Linked DNA regions of Homo sapiens: all the other regions are linked to region 2. Evidence: fine-mapped expression QTL. A gene starts in region 2. Each other region holds a variant in brackets. All regions are shown on one strand. Distances are between the middles of the regions. Region 1 has its middle 67 kb from the start of HACD1. Region 2 holds the start of TRDMT1 (tRNA aspartic acid methyltransferase 1). Region 3 overlaps TRDMT1 (tRNA aspartic acid methyltransferase 1). Region 4 overlaps TRDMT1 (tRNA aspartic acid methyltransferase 1). Region 5 overlaps CUBN (cubilin). Region 6 holds the start of CUBN (cubilin).

Evidence for each region. PIP is the estimated chance that this variant, and not a neighbour inherited with it, causes the effect.
Region 1: its variant is fine-mapped to the expression of TRDMT1 in cerebellar hemisphere (GTEx, PIP 0.97).
Region 3: its variant is fine-mapped to the expression of TRDMT1 in whole blood (TOPMed, PIP above 0.99).
Region 4: its variant is fine-mapped to the expression of TRDMT1 in whole blood (TOPMed, PIP above 0.99).
Region 5: its variant is fine-mapped to the expression of TRDMT1 in cerebellar hemisphere (GTEx, PIP 0.91).
Region 6: its variant is fine-mapped to the expression of TRDMT1 in whole blood (TOPMed, PIP above 0.99).

What each region holds. Positions count from the first base shown.
Region 1 is chr10:17,547,450-17,552,539 of GRCh38, reverse strand. No RefSeq gene overlaps it. Among named protein-coding and RNA genes, the nearest start is that of HACD1, 67 kb to the left of the region's middle. The variant G/C (reference allele first, on the strand shown) is at 1,983.
Region 2 is chr10:17,198,603-17,203,692 of GRCh38, reverse strand. It overlaps TRDMT1 (tRNA aspartic acid methyltransferase 1), which reads left to right and starts at 2,021. Exons shown (of 11, transcript NM_004412.7): 1 at 2,021-2,122. The coding sequence starts at 2,059. RefSeq lists a silencer at 2,324-2,383.
Region 3 is chr10:17,132,763-17,137,852 of GRCh38, reverse strand. TRDMT1 (tRNA aspartic acid methyltransferase 1) reads left to right here. Exons shown (of 11, transcript NM_004412.7): 11 at 1-517. Among named protein-coding and RNA genes, the nearest start is that of CUBN, 5.5 kb to the right of the region's middle. The variant A/G (reference allele first, on the strand shown) is at 1,993.
Region 4 is chr10:17,154,689-17,159,778 of GRCh38, reverse strand. TRDMT1 (tRNA aspartic acid methyltransferase 1) reads left to right here. Exons shown (of 11, transcript NM_004412.7): 7 at 550-633; 8 at 1,995-2,338; 9 at 5,045-5,090. Among named protein-coding and RNA genes, the nearest start is that of CUBN, 27 kb to the right of the region's middle. The variant A/G (reference allele first, on the strand shown) is at 2,641.
Region 5 is chr10:16,830,021-16,835,020 of GRCh38, reverse strand. CUBN (cubilin) reads left to right here. Exons shown (of 67, transcript NM_001081.4): 64 at 1-7; 65 at 3,604-3,769. Among named protein-coding and RNA genes, the nearest start is that of RSU1, 15 kb to the right of the region's middle. The variant G/A (reference allele first, on the strand shown) is at 2,090.
Region 6 is chr10:17,126,376-17,131,448 of GRCh38, reverse strand. CUBN (cubilin) reads left to right here and starts at 1,638. Exons shown (of 67, transcript NM_001081.4): 1 at 1,638-1,805; 2 at 2,199-2,328; 3 at 3,525-3,620; 4 at 4,650-4,688. The coding sequence starts at 1,684. The variant C/G (reference allele first, on the strand shown) is at 2,183.

The DNA.
Region 1 (5,090 bases), 350 kb before region 2:
GTAACATGCAGTTGTAAGATAAAGAAGATTCGAGTCATGGTGGAAAGGAAGGGATTTGTTTGAAAAACACTGAGAAGAGGAAAACAAAATCTTAGAAAATCTGAAACAAAATGAAAGAAACCCTCATTTTGGCCCCAGGTGATGTAGGCCTGTATTTCATAAAAAGGAAGAAGGAACAGAAAGGCAATGGTAGCTGCAGTCTGACTCCAAAAGTCTTGAGAATAGCATAGGTTTTTCTTGTAAGTTTCCTTTTTAGTAGTTTCATTCAGCATCGCACACAGAAGAATTCCTAAACATTCTACTTAGCTACCTCTCACTTCCCCAGATTTTCCTTTTGCGGCAGGCACTAAAAATCCCCTCCTTTATCAATCTCTTCTTTTTCCCTTCTCAGTCTCTCTACTGCTTTTGTTGTTGATCCAGCCTACCCTCCTCCCCAGAATTCTGCACAGGATCCTTCCCTCCATGTGCAGTCTCCTGGGAAGGCCTCGTGTAGGGAAAACTCTCTCTCACCGTGCTTTTCCTCCACCCTCACACCACAACAATCTTCAACACAGAAGATTTCTGTGACGGAATGCTTTTTCCCTCCACATACCAAGCAGTAGACATCATCTGGGCATCCTTTAATCCAGTTTTGACACTATCTACCTGGAGATAGTGTCAGATCCAGTGAGTTGAAGGCTCAGTCCCCCACACTACCCCTCCCCCAAACACACTCTCTAGTTGCAGGTCTGGGCCTCCAGAACTTCTGACCGACCGGCTTCAATTTGGGTTCCCGTGATCTGTTTCAACTCAGCTGATGTGCTGGAGCGGCTCACAGAATTCAGGGAAACACTAGCATTTACTGATTTATCCTAAAGGCTGCTGTGAAGGATGCAGATGAAGAGATGCCTAGGGTGAAATACGGGGCAAGGGGTGCAGAGCTTCCACGCCCTCCCTGGGCCCACCATTCTCCAGGAACCTCCACACGTTTAGCTATCCAGAAATTCCCTGAACCTTGTCCTCTTGGGTTTTTATGAAAGTTTCATGCCATCAGTGTTCCTTCCCCCAGGGTATTGGGTGGGACCTTCTCATGGGAGGGTCTTAAGACCCACAGTCAGAAGGGCAGGGGACTCTTAGAGTCCTGCCTTGGGCGGGTGAAAAGGGGGCAGGAGAGAGATTCTGTGTCTGGAGGTCCGCGCCTGAGGCCTAACACATCCAACTTCGTAACAAAAGTCTTGCAACAAGGGCTATGGGAGTTATGAATCAGTAACCATGGACGAAAACCAATGTACAACATAAGACCACAAGCCTCATCTTCCTTTTACTGGAAAGAAGCTTAAGATAGGGCTTAGAAGTGAGGTAGGAGGTAGGACTCGGACACCGGACCAAATTGAGGATTAGCTAAAATAGAGTGGAGGGGGAAGCAGCTTTCCATAAGACACACCCACCAGTGGGCCATGTCAGTTTACCATTGTCATGGCAACACCTGAAAGTTACCCCTTTCTATGGCAACGACCTGAGGACCCAGAAGTTACCTTTTTTTTTTTTTTTTTTTTTTTTTTTAAGACGGAGTCTTGCTTTGTCTCTCAGGCTGGAGGGCAGTGGTGCGATCTTGGCTCACTGCAACCTCCACTTCCTGGGTTCAAGCATTCTCCTGTCTCAGCCTCCCAAGTAGTTGGGACTACAGTGCACACCACTATGCCTGGCTAATTGTTGTATATTTAGTAGAGACGGGGTTTCACCATATTGGTCAGGCTGGTCTCGACCTCCTGACCTAAGGTGATCCAGCCACCTCGGCCTCCCACACTGCTGGGATTACAGGTGTGAGCCACAGCACCCAGCCTGTTACCACCCTTTTCCCAGAAATTTCTGCATAAGCTGCCCCTTAATTTGAATGTAATTAAAAGTGAGTATAAATAGGACTGCAGAACTACCTTTGAGCTGCTACTCTGGGCACACTGCCTGGGGGGTAGTCCTGTTCTGCAAAGAGCGGTCCCTCTGCT[G/C]TTCCTGTACACTGCCGCTTCAAGAAAAGTTGCTGCCTAACACCGCTGGCTCATCCTTGAATTTTTTTCCTGGGCAAAGCCAAGAATCCTCCCAGGCTAAGCCCCAGTTTTGGGACTTGCCTGGTACCACATCAGAAACATAAACTTCGTAATGAGATATTCTGCATCTGAGTTCGAGCCCCTCCACTTACCTGTTCTGTGACCTTGGCCAAATTATTTAAGCTTAATTTCTTCATAAGCTGGATTAATAATCCTACTTACCTAACAGGGTAGAATTAAAGATTGAATTGAAATAATACACGTACAGTGCTTAACATAGCAACTGGTAGACAGTCAATGCTCAATAATTCTCTTCTCTTCCATTCTACTTTTCTCCTAAGAAATAAACCAATACCAAGACCTTTTATACCATGTTATGTGATATGGTTAAAGTGTTGCTGACTCCTTGGCTGGGCGCAGTGGCTTATGCCTGTAATCCCAGCACTTTGGGAGGCCGAGGTGGGTGCAGCATAGGTTCAGGAGTTTGAGACCAGCCTGGCCAATATGGTGAAACTCCGTCTCTACTAAAAATACAAAAATTAGCCAGGTGTGGTGGCACATGCCTGTAGTCCCAGCTACTCGGGAGGCTGAGGCAGGAGAATCACTTGAGCCTGGGAGGCGGAGGTTGCAGTGAGCAGAGATTGTGCCACTGCACTCCAGCCTGGGTGACAGAGCAAGACTCCATCTCAAAAAAAACAAAAACAAAGACAGTATAGGGGACTCCTTTGAGAAGGTCTCAGTCTCCTTTTTTTTTTTTCCATTCAGAATCTAACCTTTTCTCCCTGACCTGTGTGTCTTCTCTGGGGTGAGTGTGAGTCCTCTGGGACCCTCTTGGGGAGCTTTCATCCTCCACTGGGATCTCTGCTGCCTTGTGCCTCCTAGGAGAGTTTGCAATCTCCCAAGACTAGGGCTTAATCCTCTTCCACTAAATCCAAGGGCTGTGTCTCAGGTAGAAAGAACAGGACTGTGCCTTCTCTGGAATCTGTGCCTGCTGGGAGCAACTGGCCACTAACCGTCCCCAACACCTTGATCAAAACACCAGGAGATGAAGATTGGGGAGCTGGACACCTGGCTTTGGGGCACTCTGCCGTGCTCCAAGGAAAACTGGAAATAGGGTCTCTATGCCAATCCTGGCTGAATCTTAGCCTCCAGTCAAGTTTGAAGAGGCCACTTTCCTCTGCTCACTGAGACTTTCTAGGCTTGCTGTCTCCAGCTCAGAGGGAGAGGTGTTCCCACCTCCACGGACCCATATCTACCTTCACACCTTCACTCCAAGCTCTGTTTGGTTATTGCGATGGTTAATTTTTGTGTCAACTTGGTTAAGCTGTGGTACCCAGATGTTTCATCAAACACCAGTCTAGATGTTGCTGTGGAGCTGTGTTTTTAGATATGATTCACATTTAAATCGGTCCACTTTGAGTAAAGCAGATTATCCTCTATAATGTGCATGGGACTCATCCAATCACTGGAAGGCCTTAAGAGAAAAAGACTGAGGTCTTGGAAAGGGGAGGAATTCTGCCTCCAGGCTGCCCTTGGACTCCAGCTGCAACATCAATCTTCCAGCCTGCCGGCCTGCCCTGCAGATTTCAGACCTCCCAGTACCGCAATCTCATGAGCCAATTCTTTACCATAAATCTTTTTCTCTTAACTCTTTCCTCTCTCTCTGTTCCTCTCTCTCTCAATACTCCTGACTGCAATTATCTTATAAAGCCATAACTGCCTTCAAGAGACCCCTTTTCCCTTCTTAGCCTTGAAGAACTTCATCAACACCAAGAATTCAGGAATGAGGAAAATGCATAGTAAATAGCTGGTCAAAGAAGACCCTGGGCTTCTGAAAGATCTCCAGCTGTTCCTTCTCTAACCTCGGCTGGCTTTGGACTCACCTTTCCAAGTAATCTTCTAATTTTTCAAGGATTTCAATTAGTGATCATATCCTATCTGAAATGACTCCCAGTTTAAATATAGTTTCTCTACATCAGATCCAAAGAGCAAAAGAAATAATAAGAGAATAACTGAAACAATAAGCCTTTCCTATGTAAATATTTGGACACGACTACACTGGCAGAGATAATGCTGTTGGATGGCTGCCCCTCCCTGTAGGCCCACCATGAATGTGACCGCTGCAGGTACAGCCAGACTCAAGTATGTTGCATTGGTGCTGCAATCAGTCCTGTGATTTCCCCAAATGGTGAACCACTCTTGGCAAAGTTCCAAAACAAATTTTGGTCATTGCAGTCCTAGAAAATTCAATGTATAAAAACCTGCAAAAAAAGTAACAGTTTGGTTTATAGGTATGTTAGGGAAGCAGGAGCCAAGGAAAGCCAGGGTGACACCATTTTAAGAAGACCTCCATCTTTAAACTAGCAAAGCACATTTCTTGACAGGCGCAACCCATGGTTCCAAGATGCTTACAGCTAAGAAAGCAGCTTGGTAATCCCTGCAAGGACAAACTCCTACAGCATCAGAAAATCCAGATGCCCCAAAACCCATAAGAATATATGTTTTCTAGGTAATAATTGGTATGCTTTGGTGTACTCACACACTAGACTGTCAAGGCTAGTTTTTATTTTCTTTTTCTTTTTTGAGACAGAGTTTCACTTTTGTCACCCAGGCTGGAGTGGAATGGTGCAATCTTGGCTCACTGCAACTTCTGCCTCCCGGGTTCAAGCAATTCTCCTGCCTCAGCCTCCTGAGTAGCTGGGATTACAGGTGTGCACTACCATGCCTGGCTAATTTTTGTATTTTTAGTAGAGACGGGGTTTCACCATGTTGGCCAGGCTGGTCTTGAATTCCTGATCTGAGGTGATCCACCCGCCTCGGCCTCCCAAAGTGCTGGGATTACAGGTGTGAGCCACCGCGCCCAGCCAAGGCTAGTCCTCTTTAAATCAACAGAGTAACACATTTGTCATGATGCCTGCTCACCTGCGCGTGGACACAGCTCAGTGTTTAAGAAAGACTTAAAGCCAGGGCTTTCCTCTACTTCCTTTCTGAGGATGCCTTTCTCTGTAAGTTTCTAATAAACTCGCTTCTTTCACTATGCTCTGTGACTTGCCTTGAATTCCTTCCTGT
Region 2 (5,090 bases):
CTTACAGATGAGGAAACCAGGGTCATCTCAAAGTCACACAATCAGTTAACTGGCAACGCCAGGGCTAAAGCTGAGTTATCTGGTATCTTTCTACCATACACCTCTTCTTATCTGAAAGTGACTAACAAAAAGCAAAGCACGTGGCCAATGCACATGTACAATTTAAAAAGTTAATTTCATAGACCACATCAAAAGGAACCAGTGAATGTTATAATTTGGATGCAGTGGTTATACTTTTATTTGTTAACAGCATTACATTAGCAGGCATGCAACATTTCTAACAAATCAGTTATTGTTATTACAAGTGGTACCCCCAAGTTCCCCCTAACAAAAACCTGTGGCAGTGTTGGGAACAAAGAGAAAAACACTTCACAACGGGAACATTTTCTATCCTCCATATGGGTACATTATTTTTATTTATAATTGACTGTAAACACCGCTCCCCCCACAAAATTTCTAAGCTCCCCCCAACTGACTGATTGAACACCTCCACCAAGCGGATTCCAAAGAAACTTGAAAAACTAGTTCAGGCCATGCTGGGAAAGGGAAGTCAGACATGCCTCATTATACTTTCCTCTCTTTGGAGTTCAGGCACAACTGACCAGTATTATTATTAAAACAAGAGATCTTCATACCGACATAACAGACTCTTCTTAGCAATAAGATACCAAAATTCCAACATGACTCTAGTATAGCATCACATGAAAGATAGCAGGCCCTAAATCAAAGCATTTTACCCTAAAATAAATTTCTTTGACACTTTTTGAAATGGCCCTACACAGCCATCTCTTGTGGGGAAAATCTACATTCTATAGAGACTCCCTTTCCCTTTCCAGGTCTTTTCCTGATCCAAGAGATATTTAACTAAGAGTCTGGCATCTTTTTACACATGATAAGAGACATTTGCCAATTATTCTCTCTGAAGCCTGTTACGTATGAGACTTCGTCTACATAATAAGAACCTTGGTCTCCACCTTATCTTAACCCAGACACATTCCTTTCTATTGATTCCAGGTCTTTAGGTCACAACTTAACTCTTTCAACCAACTGCCAATCAGAAAATCTTTGAATCCACCTGTAACCTGGAATCCTTCCCCTTTTTGAGTTGTCCCATCTTTATGGACCAAACTAAGTACACCTTCCATATACCAGTTAATGTCCTTATGTCTCCCTAAAACCATATAATCCCAAGCTGTAGCCCAACCACCTTGGGTACATGTTGTCAGGACCCTGTGGGGTTGTGTCATGGGTCACGGTCCTCACCTTGTGCTCAGAATAAACCTCTTCAAACATTTTACGGAGTTTGGCTTTTTTCGTCAACATGAGCCTCTAACAGTTGGTTACTGGATCATCCTGAGGAATCAAGGCCATAGCACTTAAAGACCCATAAATAATCCTACATGATATTCACTGTGTATTCTATGTAGGTGTAATTTCCAAGCTAAAACATAATTAACCCCACTAATAGACACAACAAACATCCTCTGTATTATCAGCACGCACACAGGGCTTTCTCTGCTGCGAGTGGACTTGTGTCCTTACTTATAATTCTGGAATCTTCTCTAGGGGAGAGGCTGGTCTAATTTCTCTCTATTGACCCAGGGCAGGCAGGAAACAAGGCACACTGTGGAAAGAATGTTTGAATGTTCAGGCTTCTAAGTGACAGAAAAGCAGCTTGTCTGAAAAATGATTTTTTTCTGGCTTCTAACCAGTGTTAATTCACTTGGAAACCAAGGCAGTTTTCTCCCCTTTACTGAACTCTGGATTTCTTTTCCAATCAAGGCCCCTGACACCAAAGAAGGAAATGGAGCGTAAATCAGGCTACAGAGTGGCTGCCATTCATTCGGGAAGCCTTATTGTTTTCCGTCCTTTGTTCCCCTCTAGACCCTTGCCAATCCCCAGGCCGCGAGGCCCTCTGAAGCCCTGAGCCTGGAGCGGTAGGAGACGGGGGAACTGAAACGCCGCGGAACCAGAGGCTGAGGGAGCGGCGCGATGGAGGGAGGAGGAGCGACGGACCGGCAGGCCTAGCTCCGGGGCTGCGGCGGCTGAGGCGCGGGGATGGAGCCCCTGCGGGTGCTGGAGCTATACAGCGGCGTGGGCGGCATGCACCACGCGCTGAGAGGTGAGAGTCCATCTAGCACCCCTCTCTCTATTCGCTCACGGGGGCTGGTTGGAGCACCCGCGCCGGGAAGGGGCGGAGCGGCGAGACGCAAGGGGCGGACACTGTGGGGCGGACACTGTGGGGCGGCCCTCGGTTGTCCTGGAAACAGCTCCTGCGCGCCGCCGTGTCCACCCCTCCAGACGCTGACTCCCTTCTCCTGGCGCCGAGTCTGGCTCGAGGGGCCGCACATGGCGCCTCAAAGGGCCCAGTTGGGAGTCGGGATTCGCAAGGCAGTAAATCAACCTCAAAGGGTATCAAAGGGGCGAGACCCTCGCCTGGTGCCAAGCCCCCATTCTAAGTGTGCAGCCACCGAGAAGCATGGAGACTCGGTCCTTCATCCTGGGGGGCTTCCCAGCTGGGGAGGGAGGGAGTGTCAGGGGCTCCCCTGGTGAGAGATGGATCTTGGAAGGGATAATAGCTACAATTCAAGGTAGAAGTTTGCGAATGCTAAATAGGATGGTAGAGGAAGCTTGAAGAACTTGGACGTCTGATCGTTGGAAAGAAACGTGTCTTCTGTAGTTCTGCGTTTAGATGCCAGAGAACTGAGTTCCAGCTTGGTGGCAGTGTGACGTTGGGCTACTTCGTGAACAGTGATGAACCTGTTTCCTGGTTTTAAAAGAGAATGATTATTATAAGGATTAAAGTCTGTCAAGTGCTTGTTAGTGCCTGATACATTGTAACCACTCCAAATATTATACATTATTATCACTATTACTTTAAAACGACATCACGAGATATTATCAAGCAAACTATTACTTTTATGCACGTCTTTGATTTTGAGGTTTTTGATTTCTTTCATGCTGAGTTGGAACTGAAAGTTTTACTTTTGGTGATATTCACTCAAAATTATTTATTGAGCTCCTATTCTGTGCCAGATTTTGTGCTAGGAGCTGGGGATACAGAATGACAAACAGGCTTTGAAGGTGCATGTTTATTCTTAAATTACTAAGACAACCACCGAACTGAAACTTCCCTGCTTCCTTATTTAGGACCAAGAGTAACAAGAGTAACTGTAAGATACAGACAATATTTAATGGGTTTAGCGTATAAGTTTTTTGAGCAGATTTATTGAGTTTCAATTCTAGACTAGGTTAATGATCATTAAGTTTTTAGTACTTGTTTGCCGGCTATCTTTATTTCTCATTTTAAAACTTAGCAGCATCAAAGCAAAACTCTAGTACTATTTACTCTTTGTTAATTCTCTAAAGTGATATAATGTCCGCGTTTTCCCATATCTTGAAACTCCTTAATGAATTGCTTAGTACTTTATCATAAGCTGTAATTCAGCCATTCCTTAAGTGTCGAATATTTAGATCATTCTTCAGTTTTTTTGCAAGTACAGTGTGCTACAGTTACATTCTTGAGCATAATGCCGATTTTCTCTTTAAGCATGTTTACTAACTGTTGGAATTAATTCAACAGTAAGACTTAACTGTGTGCTAGTTACTAAGTGAAAAACAGAATTTTTAAGGCTTTTGAGAGAGAGGATAGCAAATTGCTTTTCAGAGATTTTTGAGTGCCTTAACTACATATTCATCAGGGATATGTATTATCAATTTTTAATCCTTGCTAATTTGTTAGGGGAAATTGTGTAATTTTAAGTGACAGTTTTGGGATTAATGAAAGAGTAAAATATTTTCTCTCCTATTAGCCAATGCAATGTGAATTTGTACACGTTTTTCTATTGCCAGTTCTACTGTTGTGAATCCAAGCTATTAAGTTCTGTAATTTAAATTATTAACATAGCTTCCCAGCTTCTCTCCTTACTTCCATTCTGCCTCCCTACTCCGTTTTCCTTCTAGCAGGCAGCATGATCATTTGCACAGTAAACCAGATCATGTTACTTCGTTGCTTAAATGGTTGCTTTTGAGATTGTAATCACAGTCCCATCTTAACAGGCTTGTGAGTTCTGGCTTCTGTCTTCTCTTCAATTTTATCTGCCACTCTCCCTTCAGCATCCCGCTTCACCGTCAACACCCAAAGCTGAAATTCTAATTAAACGATTCCCTGAATTCTTTCCTCAGCCTTTCTTGTCGAGGCTTACTGTTTTTCTTTCTCTCTACTCCTCAAACCCTCGAAGTTCTTCGATGTTCTGGCCTTTGCTTTTGCTGTTGCCTCATCCAGAGTGCTCCCTAACCCCAGACTTTTTCACTCTAGCTTCGGTTCACATTTCATGTCTTAGTTCATATATTGGCCTTCCCTGGCTGACCCTGTGATCCAAAGCAACTTTCCTGCCTCCCTGTACCTCTCTGCTCTCTCATCTTTTCGGTGGAAATCTGCATATTAGGGATATAGACTCTTAATCATATTGATGCAAATATTTTTCCACACTTGTTTGCCTTCCCATGTTCACTTATTTGATGTACTAAAGTTTAAAATTTACCTGTAATAAAATGCATTGCTCCTTTCCAGGTGGTTTTTAATATAATAATAAAGACTAATAACAGCAGCTAACTTTAGTGTTTATTAGGGATCTTTTAAATTCAGGTCCTTTTTTAAGTATGTAATAAACTAGTTAGCGGTAGAACTGGTATTTTAACCTAGGTCTACCTACCTGACCTTTTAACTATGCTATGTTGCCGTTGTTCTGGTTAGAACTACTAACTTCCTTGGATCTATACATTAAATAATATAATAAGCAGCACAAAAGGAATAATATTGAACTTCATTTTTGACTGATTTCTAGATAAGGTTCATAATGGAATTTTTTTATTGTGGTAAAACACAACATGAAATGTATCATTTAAACTATTTTTAAATGTATAGTTCAATGGCATTAAGTACATTCACAATGTTGTGCAACCATCACCCTTGTTCATTTCTAAAACTTTTTAATCATCTCAAACAGAGCTCTGTACCTGTTAAACAATAACTCCAAATTCCCTTTCCCCCCAGTCCCTGGTAACCTTGATTCTGCTTTGTCTTTATG
Region 3 (5,090 bases), 66 kb after region 2:
CTTTTTTTTTTTTTCTTTTTTTTTTGGCAGAGTTTCGCTCTGTCACCCAGGCTGGAGTGCAGTGGCTCTCGGCTTGCTGCAACCTCCACCTCCTGGGTTCAAGCGATTCTCCTGCCTCAGCCTCGCCTCCTGAGTAGCTGGGACTACAGGTGTGTGCCACCATGCCCGGCTAATTTTTTTGTATTTTTAGTAGAGACAGGGTTTCACCATTTTGGCTGGTCTCAAATTCCTGACCTCAAATGATCAGCCCGCCTTGGCCTCCCAAAGTGCTGGGATTACAGGTACGAGGCACTGAGCCCGGCCAGTGGAACCACTTTCTATAGTGTGCCCATACTGGGCCTTGGACATCTTTCCTAGTTTGGTACCTGCTGTTTACTTAACAGCATGCTACTGTGTATCTGTGCCATCTTGTCACACTTGTCTTTGTAATGTTGCCTAACTCTGGCTCTCCAGATTTGTACATTACGACTTTATTGTAAATCAGAGAAGGTCAATAAATTTACTTCTTTCAAATTTCCCCCATGGTCAAGGACTTCGTATGTCTTCACTAAATGCTTATTAAGCCTCTAAAACAATGGAATTTAGATAAAGCTGGTAGGAATAAAAAGTGAACATTGGTATAAAAAACAGCAGTGAAATATACTAATGTGGCAATGAGATGCTCTTCAAGAATTTGGAGAAAAATACAGAAAATAAGAGGGTAAGTAAAGTCTGTACACTTAGTATAAAATCTCCAGTCACCTCTACTAGTCCAGGTAGAAGACTGGAGAATTTTTTTCTGAACGTCTCCAGGGCAAGATGCCTTCAAAGATGGGCATTTGGGGTTCCCCAGTGAAATTGTCAGTTTGCCATTCGGTTGCTCTGTGGCAAAGCCTACCAGTTATAATCGCCACCCATGCACACAGAGCCTACCATCCATTCTGTAATGTGTTATTTTTAAATGTCAATGAACATATAAGGATCCATAGGTATTTGAGGAAAGCCTCTAGCATGAATTAGAAAGACCTAAACCAGCAAACAAATGGGAGAAAAACAACTTAGAGAAAACAGAGCCCATACAGGAAACAAGAAAACATCAAAAAGCAACTATCTAAAAATTACTAGATGATGTTACAACTACGAAACAAGAGCAAAAATCAAAAAAGGGGTTTTCAAATTTAAAATGATAGCAACATTTTAAAACAAATTACTAGAAAATTAAAAGATAAATACTTTCTCAGAAAGTATAACAAAACAAGACAAAGAGGTGGAAAATAGAAAATTATTTAAAAATTGGAGAATCAATCTAAGAAAAATGTAGAAATGGAAATGCAGACGCAATGGCAGGGACCACTTGACTCTCGTCATGAGTGAAGGTGTCTTTGTGCTCCTAGGTCACTTTAATGAGTGTACAGATAATTGGCAGGGAGGAGGATCTTTGTAAAATGAAGATTCTAATTCAGCAGGTTGGCAGTAGCACCTGAGATTTTGCATTTCTGACACGCTCCTGAGTGACGCCTGTGCTGGGTCTGTGGACCACACTTGGAGTAGCAAGGTTCTAGTCTACGCCATCTCTACATCTTCCCCACTCCCATCTTAGATGGTTAAACCACTTGCAGAGAGTGAGGCCTGTGAAGCAGCAGAGTGGTTGATATTCCTTAGAGCTCTATGTATCCAAATCTGAACTATCTTTCCTCCAAAATCTTCTTCCCCTGATTATTCTCTTACTCAATTAATGACATCTCTTTCCTTCCAATTCCAATTTTCCAAGCAAGAAACCTCTGTTCTTTTTTTTTTTTTTTTTTTTTTGAGACAGAGTCTCCCTCTGTTGCCCAGGCTGGAGTGCAGTAGTGCATAGTGCAATCATGGTTCACTGCAGCTTCCGCCTCCCAGGTTCAAGTGATTCTCCTGCCTCAGCCTCCTGAGTAGCTGGGACTACAGGTGCCCGCCACCACGCCTAGCTAATTTTTGTATTTTTAGTAGAGACAGGGTTTCACCATGTTGGCCAGGCTG[A/G]TCTTGAACTCCCGACCTCAAGTGATCTGCCTGCCTCGGCCTCCCAAAGTGTCAGGATTACAGACATGAGCCACTGCACCCGGCCAACTTCCCCCTCTAATAGTTCTAATGAAATATTAACTACCCAAGTATTTCTGTAGCCTGTTTTCTGAATATCTTTCTCACTGTCTCCTCATCTGACTGTCCATTGCCTTAAGGCTCCCCAGGTCACATCTCTTTAAGTGTACTCTAGGCGGGCCGATCATGAGGTCAGGAGTTCGAAACCACCCTGGCCAACATGGTGAAACCCCGTCTCTAATAATAATACAAAAATTAGCCGGGTGTGGTGGTGTGTGCCTGCAATCCCAGCTACTCAGGAGGTGGAGGCAGGAGAATTGCCTGAACCCAGGAGGCAGAGGTTGCAGTAAGCCGAGATCACGCCACTGCACTCCAGCCTGGGTGACAGAGTGAGACTCCATCTGCGGGGGGAAACATGTACTCTAACCTCCTTACCAACTCTGGGTCTCAGACATGGCTCCACAGGGTTGCTTGTAAAATGCAAACATGACCATGTTAATCTCTTCCCTAAGAGACTCTCATAATTCTGCAGTATTAAAAGTAAATAAAATCTAAGCTCATTAAAATGATATTTCAAAGTCCTTCTTGATTTGGCTTCCTGTTCATTTTTAAAACTTCATCTCCCACATATAGACACTGCTGTAGCCCTGCTGAGCTACTTTCTACTGAAAAGCTTTGTATACACCATTACTCTGCCTGAAACTCCTCACTCTACTATTCTACCTGGGAACTACTCAGATGGACTCCTGGGAAGCCTGCATTCCCCTTCCAGGCAGAGTTAATTCTCTCCTCCATTGTTCTCCAATAAAGGTCTCTCTCTCTCTCTCTCTCTCTCTCTCTCCCTCCCCCTCCCCCAACCTCTGTTTTTGTCCTTAGCCATATTCTGATTACCATGACCCCTTCTTAACCTTAAATTCCCCTCATATGAAATTCTAGTATACTGGGATTAACTTTCATGTATGTTTTTGATGACCACAGGAATTTTTATTTGTGAAGTCTGTGGGAATTATTTAAAGGAGGAGCAAAGAACTGAGCATTCAGAATATAAAGGGAGGAGAAGTGAATGTCACAGAAGGAGAAAAGGTTGCACAGAGATATCTTGAAAAACATAAAAAACAGGAGAAAGGAGTAGTTCATTCTGATTCTTACAACCACCTTCAGGTGGTTTTGGAAGGAGGGAGGGAGGGAGAGAAGGGAGCTAAGACTTCAGTGAGAAAGGCTGTGGAGCCAGGATGAGGAAGAAAGAGAAAGGTGAGACCATGCGACAGGACCGGAGCAGAAGTCAGCAGGTCATGAATTATGGATGAGCAGTACACTGAACATTTGGATACCACCCTCATTCCATGTACCATGTATGGTATCAGCAACAATGCAAAATACATTTGCATGTGTCTTGCTGAAGAAGTCAAAGAGAGTAAAGGCTGATGAGTGGAAATCAACAGTACAGCAGACACCATTATAAACTTAAAGTCTACAACATGCCATTAATGTTATCAGTGTTCTGACCTAAGGGTTTTATTTATTTTTTATTATTTTATTTTATTTTTATTTTTTGAGACAGAGTCTCACTCTGTCACCCAGGCTGGAGGGCAGTGGCATGATCTCAGCTCACTGCAAGCTCCGCTTCCCGGGTTCAAGCCATTCTCCTGCCTCAGCCTCCTGAGTAGCTGGTACTACAGGCGCCCACCACCACGCCCAGCTGATTTTTTGTATTTTTAGTACAGACGGGGTTTCACCGTGTTAGCCAGGATGGTCTCCATCTCCTGACCTCGTGATCCACCCGCCTCGGCCTCCCAAAGTGCTGGGATTACAGGTTTGAGCCACCGCGCCGGGCCCTAAGGGTTTTATTTTAATGAATGCGTACAAATGTGCATAAGGGTTCCTTAGGTAAACTCTCCAACTAGGTGCCCTCCTCCAAACACTGAGCAGCCCCCAGAGCAGATCCTCCCTGTCCGAGGGCTCCATTGCTAGCACCCCATATAAAAGCTTCCTCACCCTGGTTACTCAGTTCCACTCAAGGATGATACCGTTTCTTTTGGATTGCCTGCTCTTCAAAACTCTTGGATTTAAATGGAATCTTGCTCTCCACCCACCAATGTGGAGTTGTTCTGTGCTTCCTGGAGTCACCTTGCCTTGTTCTTAGACATCAGTTACCTTTGCCTCACACCTTTAACTCCAGGTCAGCAATCGTCTTCCTCACTCAAAGTCCCCAATTCATCTCTCTGCTCTGAAATCCTCTTTTATAGGAGAAATGATCAGACACCCTTGCTTCTCCTTGTACCCAAGATTATAAAGACAGCTGTGAATTCTTTTTGTCATTTTTTCTTTTAAGGAATCTAAACCCAAGAGAGGATACAGGAGGGTGAGGATTATTATATTTCTTTACATGATATTGATAACAGCTTATATTTAATGAACACTTATTTTGTGCCAGTAACCTAATGTGCTAAACATTTTACATAACTTCAGTGCTGTTATTATCTGTCTGCTGATGAAAAAACAAGGTTCCATGGTCAGTAAGTGATGGAGTCAGACTTTGAACGCACATAAATGAGCTTCAGGCCCGTGTTCTTAACCTTCAACCATGTGGTCTTCCCTAGACTGGAGGCTTCAGAGGGAAGAATCTGCAATTTACTACATTTCGTGTTCCTATCATCTTATAGATGGCTAATATGTAAAGGGCACATGCAGAATATTAGGGGAATGCATTCTAGATTAGGGAAGAGACAGGAGTTTTACTAGTCAATGAAAGATAGAATTTCAGGTCTATAGAATGTTTACCTTGGGAGAGGAGAAGAAGAGAGGTTATCTACCATATAGATCTGAAGGTCATAGATTCTAAAACTACTTTAATTCATCTTTCCTGAAGTATTTCTGAATAGAGTAAGTAAACAGAATGAGTGCCAATCCCTTGGAAACAGCAATTGATTTTTATATTGCTTTTCACAGAGTCAACATATGCAGACAGTCTGACTTGCCTATTGATCTGAGCTAGAGTTGAGTGAATGAGCTGGATGTAAAATTCCCTAACTCATCACTAA
Region 4 (5,090 bases), 44 kb after region 2:
TTGTTAGTTTCTTGTCATCTTTAGCCATATTATATTGTTCTTTGCCCAGAAATTAATAGAAAACCCATTTCAAAAATTCAAGATACAAGCTGTGGAAATTGGCAACATATTTGATCTCTTAAAATTTATTTCATATTTATTGCCTTTTAGCTTGTAAAACATAGTGTATCATCCTTTTTTAACAAAATGAGGTAATAAATAGCCAAGAATAGCTATATTTGAATTTTTAAATTATTAATATATTATCAATAATGAATGTAAAAATATCTATACTACGTCTTAGCTGGGAAATATAAAATGGAAGTGACTTGTAGATATATTTGTCAGTTTCAATCTTTAACTCATTCAAATAAAAGTACAAAGTAGCAACTTAATAGTTTAAAATGTACTACAATGGAGTCTTCTACAAATCCGTAGCAAATTTTGCTGTGGTAGAAGCTAAATGTAGGCTCGTTTGAGTTTTTTGTTGTTGCTGTTTAACTTGGTGCTAAAGTTGGTACCGCTCTCTTTAATTTTTTAGAGTAACTAACTGCTTTGCTTTGCTTACAGCTTGGCATTCCAAATTCAAGGCTACGATATTTTCTTATTGCAAAGCTTCAGTCAGAGCCATTACCCTTTCAAGCCCCTGGTCAGGTATTATTATTGGAATTTTATTATGAATATTATGGCTTATTTATTATAAATATATATTAGTCTGCTAATTTATTTTCAAGAACTACTTTGTGTAGCTGTCTCTGTGTACTATAGAATCTAAAGTATAGACCATGCCCTAGGTCCATCTTCAAGGCTGTTTTCATCTTGCCACTTTTATTGTTTTAAAACAAAACAAAAACAAAACAAAACAATGTTTCTTTTTCTCATTAGAAAACAAATGAGTTAAAAAACTTATCATTAGTATTGTTATCTTCCTCCTTCCCCCATAATTTCCCTTTTGACCGTTGACTATTTTGCATTTATCATTTTATCCTTCCCATAGAAGCCATTGGTTACTTTTGATAATATTTTATCTTAAAAGTGGCTTACAAATATTTTAATACATGGGTTGCATTTTCTTTAAAGCCAATGCTATTTAGCTTAATTGATTAAAATATAGTAATGATTAGTACAAGCTAGAATAAAATGCTTAATTGCTACAGAAAGAATCTCTAATTATGTGAGCAGTTTTACATGCTTAGGTCAAAAAACGGGGATGGATAACTGAGTTTCAGCATTTCGGCGAAACTCTCCCTAACTTTCATAGGTAAGGACACAAAAGTCATGTCTACTAATAAGGGATTGGTAGTGTCACCTCAATCCCTTTATAATATGATACTAATATTGCTCCCTTTCCATAGTAGCCAATTCCAATGTAAAGTTAATATACCTTACACATTGTATTAAGTTAACAGTAACTTTATACATTGACTTCAAGGACTTCATCATTAAAAATTCCTGGAATGGTTTTCCTTTTACAAAATAGGACTTTATACATGGTTGTATGTTTTGCAGAAACAAGTTTTTCCCATAGGACTCATGAGTAGAAATAACCTTTCACAGTGAAAACCGCTTTTCTTTTTTTAATTGCTAGTTTTCCTTTAGATCATAGCTATGTTTTGGTTTTTCCTTTTTAATGAAGGAGTATGGCAAAACTTGATTCAAAACATGTTTTCTGGAAATGTTAGTGTTGCTTTCTAAACTTCTTTTCCAAATAAGATACAAATATGATTTATCTATATTCAGTATATACTTTCTGTTAGTTTATTGAATGTTTTTATTAATAAATACTGTAAACACTAATCCATGAAATAAATCATCTGCAGCCTGATGACAATATAGCTATATGATTAATAACGTGTAATAACTTGTACAAATACAAGTAAACCACAATTTCTATCTTTTAATGGCAACCCCATAAAGGCTAATGAGGTTGTTTTCGTAATGTTGACTGGACATTGTTAATTTCTCTTATTTTTAATGCAACTTTTGACAATTTGTGTATTTTTATGTAATGCCAGGTACTGATGGAGTTCCCCAAAATTGAATCTGTACATCCACAAAAATATGCAATGGATGTAGAAAATAAAATTCAAGAAAAGAACGTTGAACCAAATATTAGCTTTGATGGCAGCATACAGTGTTCTGGAAAAGATGCCATTCTTTTTAAGCTTGAAACTGCAGAAGAAATTCACAGGAAAAATCAACAAGATAGTGATCTCTCTGTGAAAATGCTAAAAGATTTTCTTGAAGATGACACTGACGTGAACCAGTATCTTTTACCACCAAAGTCATTGCTGCGATATGCTCTTCTGTTAGACATTGTTCAGCCCACTTGTAGAAGGTCCGTGTGCTTTACCAAAGGGTAGGTTTTAAAGATCTATTGATCCTGTATCCAAAATAACCAGGTTTTTTAAAGCTATTGTTTCTTTAAGTTCTTCTAAAAACAAGGAGCATTTTATAAAATGTTTTTGCTAGAATGAGGTATTTTCCCTTAATTGCCTACTTCATGTTCCAGTAGAACACAAGTAAAAATTCCGTTTGGCAGAACATTATGTGCACCACCCACAAAAGTGCTCATAAAAGACAATGTCATTTGTTTGGTGACCTTCATAGGAGCTTAAATACCCGTAGTGGAGACATGGTTTCTGTAGACTATTACTTGCT[A/G]ATTCTTTAGCACTTCTGTGGCACATCATACCTCAAGTGTTCACTCTTATGATCAATGTATAATAAGAAATTAAATTTTAAACTAAAGATGTAATATTGAGTCATCTGGAGAATACTAGGGTAACTTTTAAATTTAAATTTTATTCAGGTTTTTATATAAGTAATATATGCCCAAGGTTTCCAATTCAAAAGATAACTAAGATTGTAAGACTCCCTTCCATTTCTGTCTCTTGACCATTCAGTTCTTCTCCCCACATGTGACCAATGATATCAGTTTACTGTATAATCTTCCAGAGGTATTGTATCTGAAAGTGTATTTAAGTATCCATGTATATTTTATCCCCCTTTATAAGTAAATGGCAGGATATTATATATATGCCCCTTTTTTCACTGCACAATATAAATAGAATATTATCGCATATCAGTACTTAAAGGACTTTCTGTTTTCATGGTGTAGGTATATTATATAATTTACTTTACTGGTTACCTATTCATGAACATTTAGAGGGCTTCCTTTGGGTTATTACTTGAACATTTAATACAGTTCTCACTAATTTTTTTAAACCTAGAAAGGGGAAAATTAGACCTTTTTAAGAAAAATTTTGGCCGGGCACGCTGGCTCATGCCTGTAATCCCAACACTTTGGGAGGCTGAGGCAGGTAGATCACCTGAGGTCAGGAGTTTGAGACTAGCCTGGCCAACATGGTGAAACCCTGTCTGTACGAAGACTACAAAAATTGACCAGGCATGGTGGTGGGTGCCTGCATTCCCAGCTACTTGGGAGACTGAGGCAGGAGAATCGCTTGAATCTGGGGGGCAGAGGTTGCAGTGAGCCGAGATCATATCCCTGCACTCCAGCCTGGGCGACAGAGTGAGACTCTGTCTCAAAAAAAAAAAAAGAAAAATTTTGCCAAGGATCTCTGTCTGTGCTTTCTGAATGCTACTCAACCTCATTTGGTAGGTAGTTGTATGATTTGTCAATTCAGGCTTTCTGTTCTTACCTTCTAGCTAGCTATTAATATCTTGTATGATACACTGTACCCCAGTAGAACCATACCAGAGTCATTCTGAATTTATTATACTCTGCCCTTGTACTTCAGGGGAAAGAGTTTATTGCTTTCCATTATCTTGAAAGACTTCACTGGGCTGTTGTCAATTACCAAGTTCAATAGGTTCTGTTTAGGACTCTCATAAAATAAGACTTAGCAATTTTGTAATAAAAAACAACCTTGAAATTCTTTTCTAATTATAAAGATGGCATAAAAGGAGCCTGATGGTAAAATTTATTTTGGTATAGATACTGTGTGTATATACACACGTATTTATATGTGTAATATATATGAAAAAGACAGTTTGAAAAAAATTATTTTTTTCCTGGTTTGACTTTTTCCCTCTAATTCTTATTTTAAACTGTTTTCTTTGTGAAAAAGAAATAATGCTAATATGTTGAACAGCCAGCTTGGCAATAATCTTAGAGAGAGAAATACTGCTAATGACTTGCATTTCTGAAGTGTTTTATACTTTCTATGGAGTTTTTTATATAATGGTCTGATTGTTGTATGAAAGTGATCATAAAATCATACTGTGTTAAATGACAAGCAGACATAGGATCAGTGGCACTGTGTTTGCTGTGGTGTTAGAGAGCAGGGCGGTGGGTTCCTGAGAGGAAATGATGGTTCAGGCCTGATAAAAATGGCAGCAATTTCTTTTCACCTGTACAACATTTAGGTTAATGTGGCAAGGGAGCCAATATTGAATTATATTTGAATATAAAGTGCATCCTTTCCAGTGATGAACATTCAAGACAAGACAATTAATAAAAAGAAATGACAATTTATATTTCATCATTCAGTGGTGTTTACTCAACTCAAAAAACTGTGCCATGTTTCATTTCTGAGACATTTATTATTTATTATCATTTTTTTGAGATGGAGTCTCACTCTGTTGCCCAGGCTGGAGTGCAGTGGCGTGATCTTGGCTCACTGCAACCTCCGCCTCCCAGGTTCAAGAGATTCTCCTACCTCAGCCTCCTGAGGTAGGCACGCACCACCACGCCTGGCTCATTTTTTAAATATTTTTAGTAGAGACAGGATTTCACCATGTTGGCCAGGCTGACCTCGAACTCCTCTGACCTCAGGTGATCCACCCGCCTGGGCCTCCCAAAGTGCTGGGATTATAGACATTAGCCACTGTGCCCGGCCCATTGATGAGACGTTTAAATGAAACTATATTATGTCTTTTACCTAGTAATTTTTTACCTACAAAGGATATTTATGTGACATTATTCAAGATATTTCAGAAGGATGTAACTGTGTAGATTGATTAATTCATTCAATAAATATTTAAGAAATTTAGCATTAACACATACATCAGGTGCTGCATAATTGTTGTGTTGATTTTTCAGATATGGAAGCTACATAGAAGGGACAGGGTCTGTGTTACAGACTGCA
Region 5 (5,000 bases), 370 kb after region 2:
CTTGGAGGTGATATGCATTTGAATATCGTTTGAATGAATTATTTAAAAGATGGTGGATCACTTAAGATTTTACACCTTTTATCTAGTGCTGCTAATATTATATGATTCTTATTTGTTTCATTAATTTATTCATTACCCTTTCATTCCCTAAACATCTACAGAGCACCAGTCCAAACACCGGAAATTGGGAACCTTAGGGCCCGCAGGAGACTCCTAGTCTGGCAGGAAGGACAGATGGGGTATAGCCAATTACAGCACAATGTGGAAAGGACTAACTGAGTCCAGCATGGGTTGGGGTTCCTAACTCAGTCTGGGAACTAGAAGGCTCAAGAGGGCAATATGTAAGTTGAGACCTAAAAGGATCAGAGGGAAGTCTAAGGACAACATGCTGGTTCTGTAAAATGAAGCTCAATGATACTAAATAGCTCACCTAATTTTCCTGACAGCTACAGTAAGTTTGGGGCATCGTCAACATCCTCTAAAGACAAGTGTTTCCTTGAATAAATGCTCCCTGGTCTCAGGGGGGTGTGGTCTGTCCTTTCTTCACCACAACTCCAGAGCTTGAATTTGGGCACAGAAATGACTTCACTGTTTGCCCATCGTCCACACACCCACCCCCCACTCCCACCCCAGGACACACTGAGAGAGAAGCCCCCTTGTGCCTGGAGCAGGCAGAACCATGCGCCTCGTGGGCCTGAAACTTTGGGGTCCTCCAGTGCCCCCGATGAGCTCCCTCTGTGCTCTTTCTGCCCCATCGCTGCATTGGGCATATGAGATGGAACATGAACATCATCGCTCATAGGCAGGAGATAGTCTGAATAAGCCTCATGTGATGTGGACCCAGTGTGTGGAACTCAGCCCCTGTGTTTTGCCAGAAAAACCCCAGAGCTCACGGGGTTTGAGCTTTGCAAGCTCTGTCGAAAATGCATTCATCCTTAGGAAATATACTTAGGTGGAACCTAAAAACCAAGAGCATAAAGATGCTGAGTTCCTCTGTGAGTGGAGTTTAAATCTAAACCTCATCCTGACCGTCTCTAAACTGGCTTTGTACCACACAAGAGTCTTCAGTAAAGTTTCCAAAAAGTGTGCTTGTTCCTCTACCCCTGATCTGGAGTTGTATTTTTTATTTTATTTTTTTTCTCACTGCCTCTTTAATCAGGTCTTCATTCAAAATAAGCTGCCCAAGAGGATTTGACCTTTGTAGCATAAAGAAATGTACCGGTGTAGGCAGCGGGCTCCTTTCATTCTGTGGGACGATTCTTTCTAGCGGGCCTCTGCTCAGCTGATAGTTTCTTGGTAGCTTCAGCCTTTGTTCCCAACAAAACATCTTCTGCTTCTTAGCACCAAGGGCTTTCTTTCTTTCTTTTCTTTCTTCTTCTTTCTTTTCTGCCCTGCAACCCCCCTCATCCGATTTGGCTCCTAGGGCTGCTGGCACCTTCTGCCCAGCCTGGCCAGGAAGGGTGTTCTGGCATATGGTCTTTGCATATGGGTTTAGCTTCAACATGATTCCTGATGCGGAGTTTTATCATCCTGGAAAGCTCTCCCCTTTGGAATTCATCTAAATCCTTTATTAATCAATAACCTTAACATATAGTGCCATAAATAACACTCGGAGGAAGCTCATGCCTTTTCTAAAGGAATACTCGCCACGACAGGAGACCGAAAGATGTATATAGCAGGGAGGAAATGAAGAGGCAAATACAGTTATTCTTTGTGCCGGTCAGGTTATTCAACTTGGACCTGTGTACCTCCCCCACCATGGAGATCCAAATATTTATATGAAGTGTAAAGCAGAAAGAATGAGGAGAGTGGGATCTGGAGGAAAGATGGAATAATCCCGTTAGGTTGGAGTCACAGTGCAACTAACTCTTAACTCACTCCAGCTTGAATGGACCATTATTGATCAGAGTCAACGTTTGCCATTTGCCTGATAGATGCTGGGAAGCAAAGCCTTGCTTTCCAGCCGTGGAGAGTGAGAATTCCTCCTCCTAGCTGTCCTTCATTACTCCACAGAATGGATCTGAAACTTCCTGTCCCATAAGCAAAGAAAGGAAACCACCGCTTAGGCCTGTAAAATGTAGCTCCATCT[G/A]GCTCTCAGTGGGAAGGCTGTGGGCATAGTTTCTTGGCAGCTGTACCAGGAAGCCTCAGCATTCCGTTCTTGTGAACTGCGGTGGGAACGGAAATGTCTGACTGAGAATTCTGACTGTGTTACTACCAAGCGAGGGCCGAGCTCTAGACCATGCTTGGAATCTGTTTTCATGCCTTCACCTCCCCTTTCAAGATCCTCTGATGTCCCAGAGATGCCCACTGCTCTAGGTGGCCCCATTCTTCCTAGGAGAGGAAAGTGAATAAGACAAGTTGTCAGCAGTGTCAGTGGAAATTAGTATCCTGCTGCTCCTCTCAGAGCAACGGCATTTTGAAAGAGGACCCTGAGGGAAAAACGCCCAAACTCAAAAGCGTGGTGCTGGCTATGGCAGCCCTCCCATCTACTAGTGGATGACTGGCTACTCTGTCATGGCAAGGTTACTTTGTTTAAACACTTAGCAGAATAATCCCCAAAGCACTAGAAAGGCATTATTCTCTCCCATGGGCTACTACATCGACCTAAAAGGAATCTCACCTGATCAACACAGCCCAGCAAGATGTCTTAACTTTGTGACTTAAGATACCAGCAATTAACCAAAGTTTAAACCATGGAATTATATAGGGAACAGAGGAACTTCCAATATTTTGAATACATAGATCAGTAAAATCAGCATTTCCGCATGTCAGGCTGGTTCCAACATACATTGCCCGCGTAACGTTTCCGTAAGAAGCGTCGAGAGCCCTCCTGGAAGCAGGGCTGGTTGTGAATGCAGGGTAGCAGCCAGGCTGGGGGACAGAAAGTGGTTCAGTTCACAGTGTAGTTCTCTCTCCCCATAAAACACAGGCTCATCTCCTGTTTTTATATGTGTCTACTCAAAAATGAGTTGAAACAAAAAAGCAACAAGGCCTCGGAATGTGTTTGTAAAACACATTTAACAACAGACATTGTATAGATTTATAATTCTGTCCTTTGCCCATACAGAAATTCCTTTCGTTCTGAACTTTATTATACTTTGCATTGTATTTTTTCATAGCCTCTTTACAGCCAAGTAATTTTCAATGGGAAACACGTGCACACACACACATACACAAACACACACACAATGAGAAAGGTGTAATAGTTGACTGGAAGCAGAGCAGGCAACATTGCCCCCGCCCATCTCCACCTTTTAAAAATTCACTTTACCTACATTCTCCAGAATGTTTCCCCAAAAGCAAAGGCTGCAGGATCACAGCACAAACTACGGTATAAAAAAGCTGCCTGGTGTTTTAATTGCTGTAGGTTAACAGGTATTTCTGAATCCAAATGCAAATGTTTTTTGATCTACACGTGGAACATTTTTCCCCTTTGCAAGTGAAGGTGACTTCTGCATGTATTTTCAGAAAACGCTTCATTCTTAACTGTATAAAAAGACAAAGCTTTTCCGACCAATGTCATCATTCAAATTGTCTCCATTTTAATGTATATACCTTAGAGAAGAAAGTGTAAGTTTAATAATGAATGACTCCTTCCTAAAGGTGAGAAATGGAAGTAACAGCAATTCACCATTACTGGGCAAGTACTGTGGAACTCTGCTGCCAAACCCTGTCTTCTCTCAAAATAATGAACTATACCTACGATTTAAGAGTGATAGTGTAACTTCTGATCGTGGATATGAAATCATCTGGACTTCATCACCCTCTGGTAAGACATTTGCACTTTGTACAGGAAAGCACTGTGAGAAAAACATGAGGTGTCTAATAGTAAAAGGCAAAGTAACTTTATATTTTTAGCTACCTGTGTACCTGATTAGTTTATGTTAAGAATAGAGATTTTAACATTGAAAGTACAGATTACTTTTTTTTTTTTGAAATGGAATCTCGCTGTGTCATCCAGCCTGGAGTGTAGTGGCGTGATCTTAGCTCACTGCAACCTCCACCTCCCAGGTTCAAGTGATTCTCCTACCTCAGCTTCCCAAGTAGCTGAGATTACAGGCATGCGCCACCATGCCCAGCCGATTTTTGTATTTTTAGTAGACAGAGCGTTTCCCCATATTGGCCAGGCTGGTCTCAAACTCCTGAACTCAGGTGATCCAACCTCCCAAAGTGCTGGGATTACAGGCATGAGCCACCGCGCCCGGCCAGATTACTTTAAATTTTACATTTATTCATTATTTCTGTTTATAAAAGAATATATATTCATATATGAAACATATATAAGGTAAGGTAGGAAGATTCAAAAATTCCTTGGTAAATTAAATTTTGTTAGACTTTTTGACTTTTGGCTTGACCATCAAGGAAGTTCTTTGAGAATTTAAAGAAAAATTTTTACCAAAAATCCAACTTATGAACACATTCTGGCATATATATGAGTAGTTGTGCTTCTCGCAGGCCCTGACATTTCTTGGCGGTTCTGGAGAGAAATTGCTTTTTTTAGGGTAGTAAGTATCTTCTCACATTTTTGGCTGGCTGTTTATCAAACAACTAAAGAAAATTTAAGTCATGTCAATACATTTAATTCAAGAGAGGAGGAATACCTTTATAAAATATCCCAAAATACCAAAATACCTTCAAAATAAGAAAGATAAACAGAACTCACTTTAAATATCTTAAGAAAAGCGTTCTATAAAGATAATCGTGGGTAATGGAATCTTGGCACCCAAAGGAAGCTTAAAGGTGACCTCCAATGCTCAAATTTTATCAACGAGCAAATAAAACACCAAGATTAAGCTAGGTGCTGTGGCTCACACCTATAATCCCTGGGAGACCAAGGTGGGTGGATCACCTGAGGTCAGGAGTTCCAGACCAGTGTGGCCCACAGGGTGAAACCCCATCTCCACTAAAAATACAAAAATTAACTGGGTGTAGTGGCACATGCCTGTAATCCCAGCTACTCGGGAGGCTGAGACTGGAGAATCACTTGAACTTGGGAGATG
Region 6 (5,073 bases), 72 kb after region 2:
TTGAGTGAAAGAAGCAGATACAAGAGACATATAGAAGAAATTGGGAAGGTTTAAAAAAAATTTTTAAAAGCAGTGACTATTTGAGTATCACAAGTAAAGTTTTTTTTTGTTTTGTTTTGTTTTTGAGACGGCATCTCGCTCTGTCCCCCAGGCTGGAGTGCAGTGGCATGATCTCAGCTCACTGCAAGCTCCGCCTCCCGGGTTCACGCCATTCTCCTGCCTCAGCCTCCCGAGTAGCTGGGACTACAGGCGCCCGCCACTAAGCCCGGCTAATTTTTTGTATTTGTAGTAGAGACGGGGTTTCACCACGTTAGCCAGGATGTTCTCGATCTCCTGACCTCGTGATCCGCCCGCCTCGGCCTCCCAAAGTGCTGGGATTACAGGCGTGAGCCACCGCGCCCGGCATAAGTAAAGAATTATAAGCTATGGTACATAATGATCCTCTCCTCAAAGAGCCTACATAAGTAAGACACAAAATAAGTAAAACACAAACAGGCTTGTCCTGAAAGAGCCTGCATGGGTATTAACCAATGCAATGGTAATTACCTAGAGATTTTTCTTAGAAGTGAAATTTTTACAGCTCTCCCTCAAATTCAGTTTTGTCTGTGTGCTCATGGAAAGTCTGAGTGCATCAATAGTTGATTTTACAATCGAAATGTAGAATATTTTCATCACTCTCAGTGGTTTCTGTAGTCCCAGCACAGAGTGAGTGGGGACATCAGTGCTCCATGTCCTCAAACCATATATCCAGCTGGAAGGGTGTATAGCGCAGTGTGGAAAGTGGGAATGGATTCCACAGCCGTCCATAGGTCCCACAGGGATGATAAAAAGTAAAAAGTACAAATTCTTTGTACATTCTGGATATTAACCCATTTTCATATATATATGATTTGCAAATATTTTCTTCCATTCTGGGAGTTGCTTTTTCACTCTGTTGATGTATTTTTTGATGCACAAACGTTTTTAATTTTGATGTATTCCAATTTATATCTTTTGGTTGTCTGTGTGTTTTTCTTTTTTTGCCCATGCTTTTGGTATCATACTCAAGAAATCATTGCCAAATCCAAAATCCAAGGTCATGAATTTTTGTCCTATTCTTCTGAGTTTTATGTTATAGTTTCAGATTTTTTGAACCATTGTGAGTTAATTTTATAGTTTTAGCTCTTAGATTTAGATCTTTGAACTTTTTTGAGTTAATTTTTGCATATGGTATGAGGTAAGCCTCCAACTTCTTTTGCATGTGGATATCTAGTTTTCCTAGCGCTGGGTAAAGGTGGAACTCCTCTGCAAGGGAGGTGAGGAAGGAGGGGAACAGAGAAAGGTGTAGATAATGACCAGTTTACTTTTGTTGAAACCTAGTTACTTCTTAAGCAAAGATTGTTTAAGTGGATGTTTTCAAAGCTGCTTGTTACTGTTTCAAAGGTCAAATAGATAATGATTAAGTTGCGCATCACTTAAGGTAGATTTTGACCTCTCACAAGTTGAAGAGTACTGAAGATCTAAGATCATTTACATCCCTCTGGAAGAAAAAATAACATAGCCTTCTAGGGCAAAGAAGAAAAAACTCAACAGTTACAGGATATTCCATGGTTCAAAGTACACCTGCCTGGTTTGCTGTTCTCCAAAATCCCATGCTCAGTTGGTTGGAGTGGCCTCACTCTTACCTGCCAACCTGGGAGGTTGATGATGAACATGTCTTTACCTTTTCTTTGGAGTTTGCTTACCTTATTAATATTTGCTGAAGTAAATGGCGAAGCTGGAGAACTTGAGCTGCAGAGACAAAAAAGAAGCATCAATCTCCAACAGTAAGTAAACACATGGGTCATTCCTGCTCAGGGACTAGGCTAATTCCTCACCAGTTTTCCCAAATAGCCAGATAAACAAAGGTGCAATTTTTCTTGAGGAAAATTATGTTGAGAAGCAAACAGGGAAAAACATTTAGACTGAGGTATGAAATTACTTTCCTATGCACAAATTATTATCTGTCATTTTGCAAATAATCTGTTTGCAATTGCCAGGAGGTATCTCTGAGAAATGTGCAGAGAAAAAAGTGGCAGATGAGCAGGGGCAGTTGGGTTGAGATGATCAAAAAGTGAAGATGTATTTGGCCTGTAGTTATTCAGTAAGAAACTTTGTTATTTTGGTTTAAAAATTGTACTTGCTAATTACTGATGCATTCTCT[C/G]GTTTGAATTATATAGGCCTCGAATGGCTACAGAGAGAGGAAATTTGGTGTTTCTTACGGGGTCTGCTCAAAACATTGAGTTTAGAACCGGATCCCTGGGAAAAATTAAATTAAATGATGAAGATCTCAGTGAGTGTTTACATCAGGTAATACACTGGAAATATATTGAAGTCATTTTGTATATCCATATACGGTGACTTAATTGAACAAGTCTAGATTAATCTGTACCTTGAATCTTTTTTAATTATTATTTTTTATTAATACATAATTTGATACATTCCTATAATGTGTAAAGTTCAAATCAGGGTAATTGGGATATCCATCACCTTAAATATTTACCTTTTCTTCATGCTAAGAACATATGAATTGTTCTCTTCTAGTTATTTTGAAATGTACAATAGATTAATGTTAACTATAGTCACCCTACTGGTCTATCAAACACTAGGTCTTATTTCTTCTATCTAACTATATATTGTATTCATTAATCAACCTGTCTTCAGCCTCCCTCCCCCTTCCTAGTGTACCTTGAATCTTTAGCATAGAGAACATAATTGGGCATCAGACATGTTCTTGTAAAGGACGATGGCCTGGGGTTAATAGTGGGTAGAGGGAGTATGCTAAAAGATAGAAGCTCATTGTGCCAGACAATGCACCCTAGTCCAGAGAAGGCACGGAGGGTGGAACTGAAACTCCTCCACAGGGGATGCGAGGAAGTAGGGGACCAAGGATATGTGGACATGTGACCAGTTTGCTTTTGCCACAGAACAGAATTGGCCAGTTATTCTCCTGCCTTACTGGGTGTTTTCATTTCCCAATAATCACTGCATATTTCAGTCATAATGTTAGAAGTCAGCATTATTCAGAGCTTACTGTGGGCCATCCACTGTGCTTAGCACCGTATGGATGTTATCTCATTTGACCTTCACAGCTGTCCTATGAGGTGGCCTTTATTGTCACCCTAGTTTTACAAGAGGTAAAGAAACCCTGAAGCAGTTAGGTAACTTGCCCAGGACAGCAATAAATAGCTGAGCCAGGACTTAAAACCTAAACAGTCTGCTTCCAAGCCAGGTTTCTTAATAAGCACCCTAAACTGGTATTATAGGAAAACATACAAATGGAAAATACCTTGATCTATTGTTACTGAAAAGGATAAGTGGAATTATGCTGTGGCTATTTTAGCCCAGTGTTTATTACGCATGGTGTTGTTTTGGTTTTTATAATAATAGGCAAGATCTTAGTGCTTAAAGTAGAATACTACTCAAGTTTTTAATTATGTTACTGTAAAGATAAATATGATATTTTCACTAGTGCTCTTCATTTCTTCTTCTTTTTCTAAAATTAGATCCAGAAAAACAAAGAAGATATTATAGAGTTAAAAGGGAGTGCAATTGGTCTGCCTCAAAATATATCTAGTCAAATCTATCAGCTTAATTCCAAGGTAAGTCTGACATCTACGTCATAAGAACCGATGAGTTCTCCCTAGTTCTATTGTATAAGTAACCGTTTTGTAGGGGATATACCAACTTTGTGTGCTCTTTAGAGATTTAGCATGTAACTACTCACTGTTTGGTTAAATGACACAGCTGTAATGGAGGCTGTAGAAGTGATGGACAGAAGGCAGGAAATGCTGTGCAAGCACTTGTTGCAGAAGTAGGCCTTGGGCTGGGAGCAGTGGCTCACTGCAAGTGAATGGATGATTAATATAAAAAACTGCCTGTAATCCCAGCAGTTTGGGAGGCCACAGAGGGAGGGTCGCTTGAGCCTAGGAGTTTGAGACCAGCCTGGGCCACATAGTGAGACTCCGTCTCTACCAAAAAAAAAAAAAAAAAAAAAAATAGCTGGGCATGGTGGCATGAGCCTGTACTCACAGCTACTTGGGAGGCTGAAGTGGGAGGATGGCTTGAGCCAGGGAGGTTGAGACTGCAGTGAGCTATGATCATGCCACTGTGCTCCAGCCCAGGCAACAGAGTGGGACCTTGCCAGAAAAAAAAAAAAAAAAAAAGAAAGAGAGAGAGAGAGACAGAAAGAGAGAGAGAGACAGAGAGAGAGAGAGAAAGAAAGACAGAGTGAAAGAAAGAGAGAGAGAGAAAGAAAGAAAGGAAGAAAGAAAGAAAAGAAGCCTTGCTGAAGTTCTGAGAGCAATCTTCTTATTGGGGAAGTGGATGCATCACTGACATTTATGAACATTTCCATAGTCACTGCCTACAGAGAAGCAATCGGTCAACTTATCAGTGGGTTGTACTTTAAAAAAAAACTTAAAAAAACCCCAGAAATCTATGTGATAGGAGGGAATAGGAAGGAAGAAAATCCTGAGGGGAGAGGAATGAAGAGGAAAAAGGGAATAAAAGGAGGAATGAACAAAGTGTGTCCCTAGCAGAGGGCATTAGGACAATATGTCAAGGATATAACATCACATGTGCAATGCCTTTGAACCAGCTAACTGAAGCTTTTTCTTCCCTATTGCCAGCTGGTGGATCTTGAGAGAAAATTCCAAGGCTTGCAGCAGGTAGGTCTCATGCTACTACATACCCAAATCTTTCACAGAAAACATACTAGAATCATTAATAGAGCTGCTATTCTTATTTTGAAGGTGAATGGATGATTAATATTAAAAACTTGCTTTTTCCCATAATTTAATTCTCATCCCAGCATGTGCTTCCCAGGATGCAGATGCAGAGCTGAGTCTAAGACAGATGAAATGACAAGGCTGAGGTCTCCGAGCCTGTTAGGGCTTCTGACCCTGAGTTTGCAGCCCACAGCCCACATCCTTTACCATCACCCTTTAGCTGTGTGTGCTGTGCTTGGTCAGCTAGTGATCTCCCAACTTGCTGATTCTCCCATCAGGGACTGGGGCTCGGAAAGCAAGCATCCTCTCTGACGCTAAGCTCGGA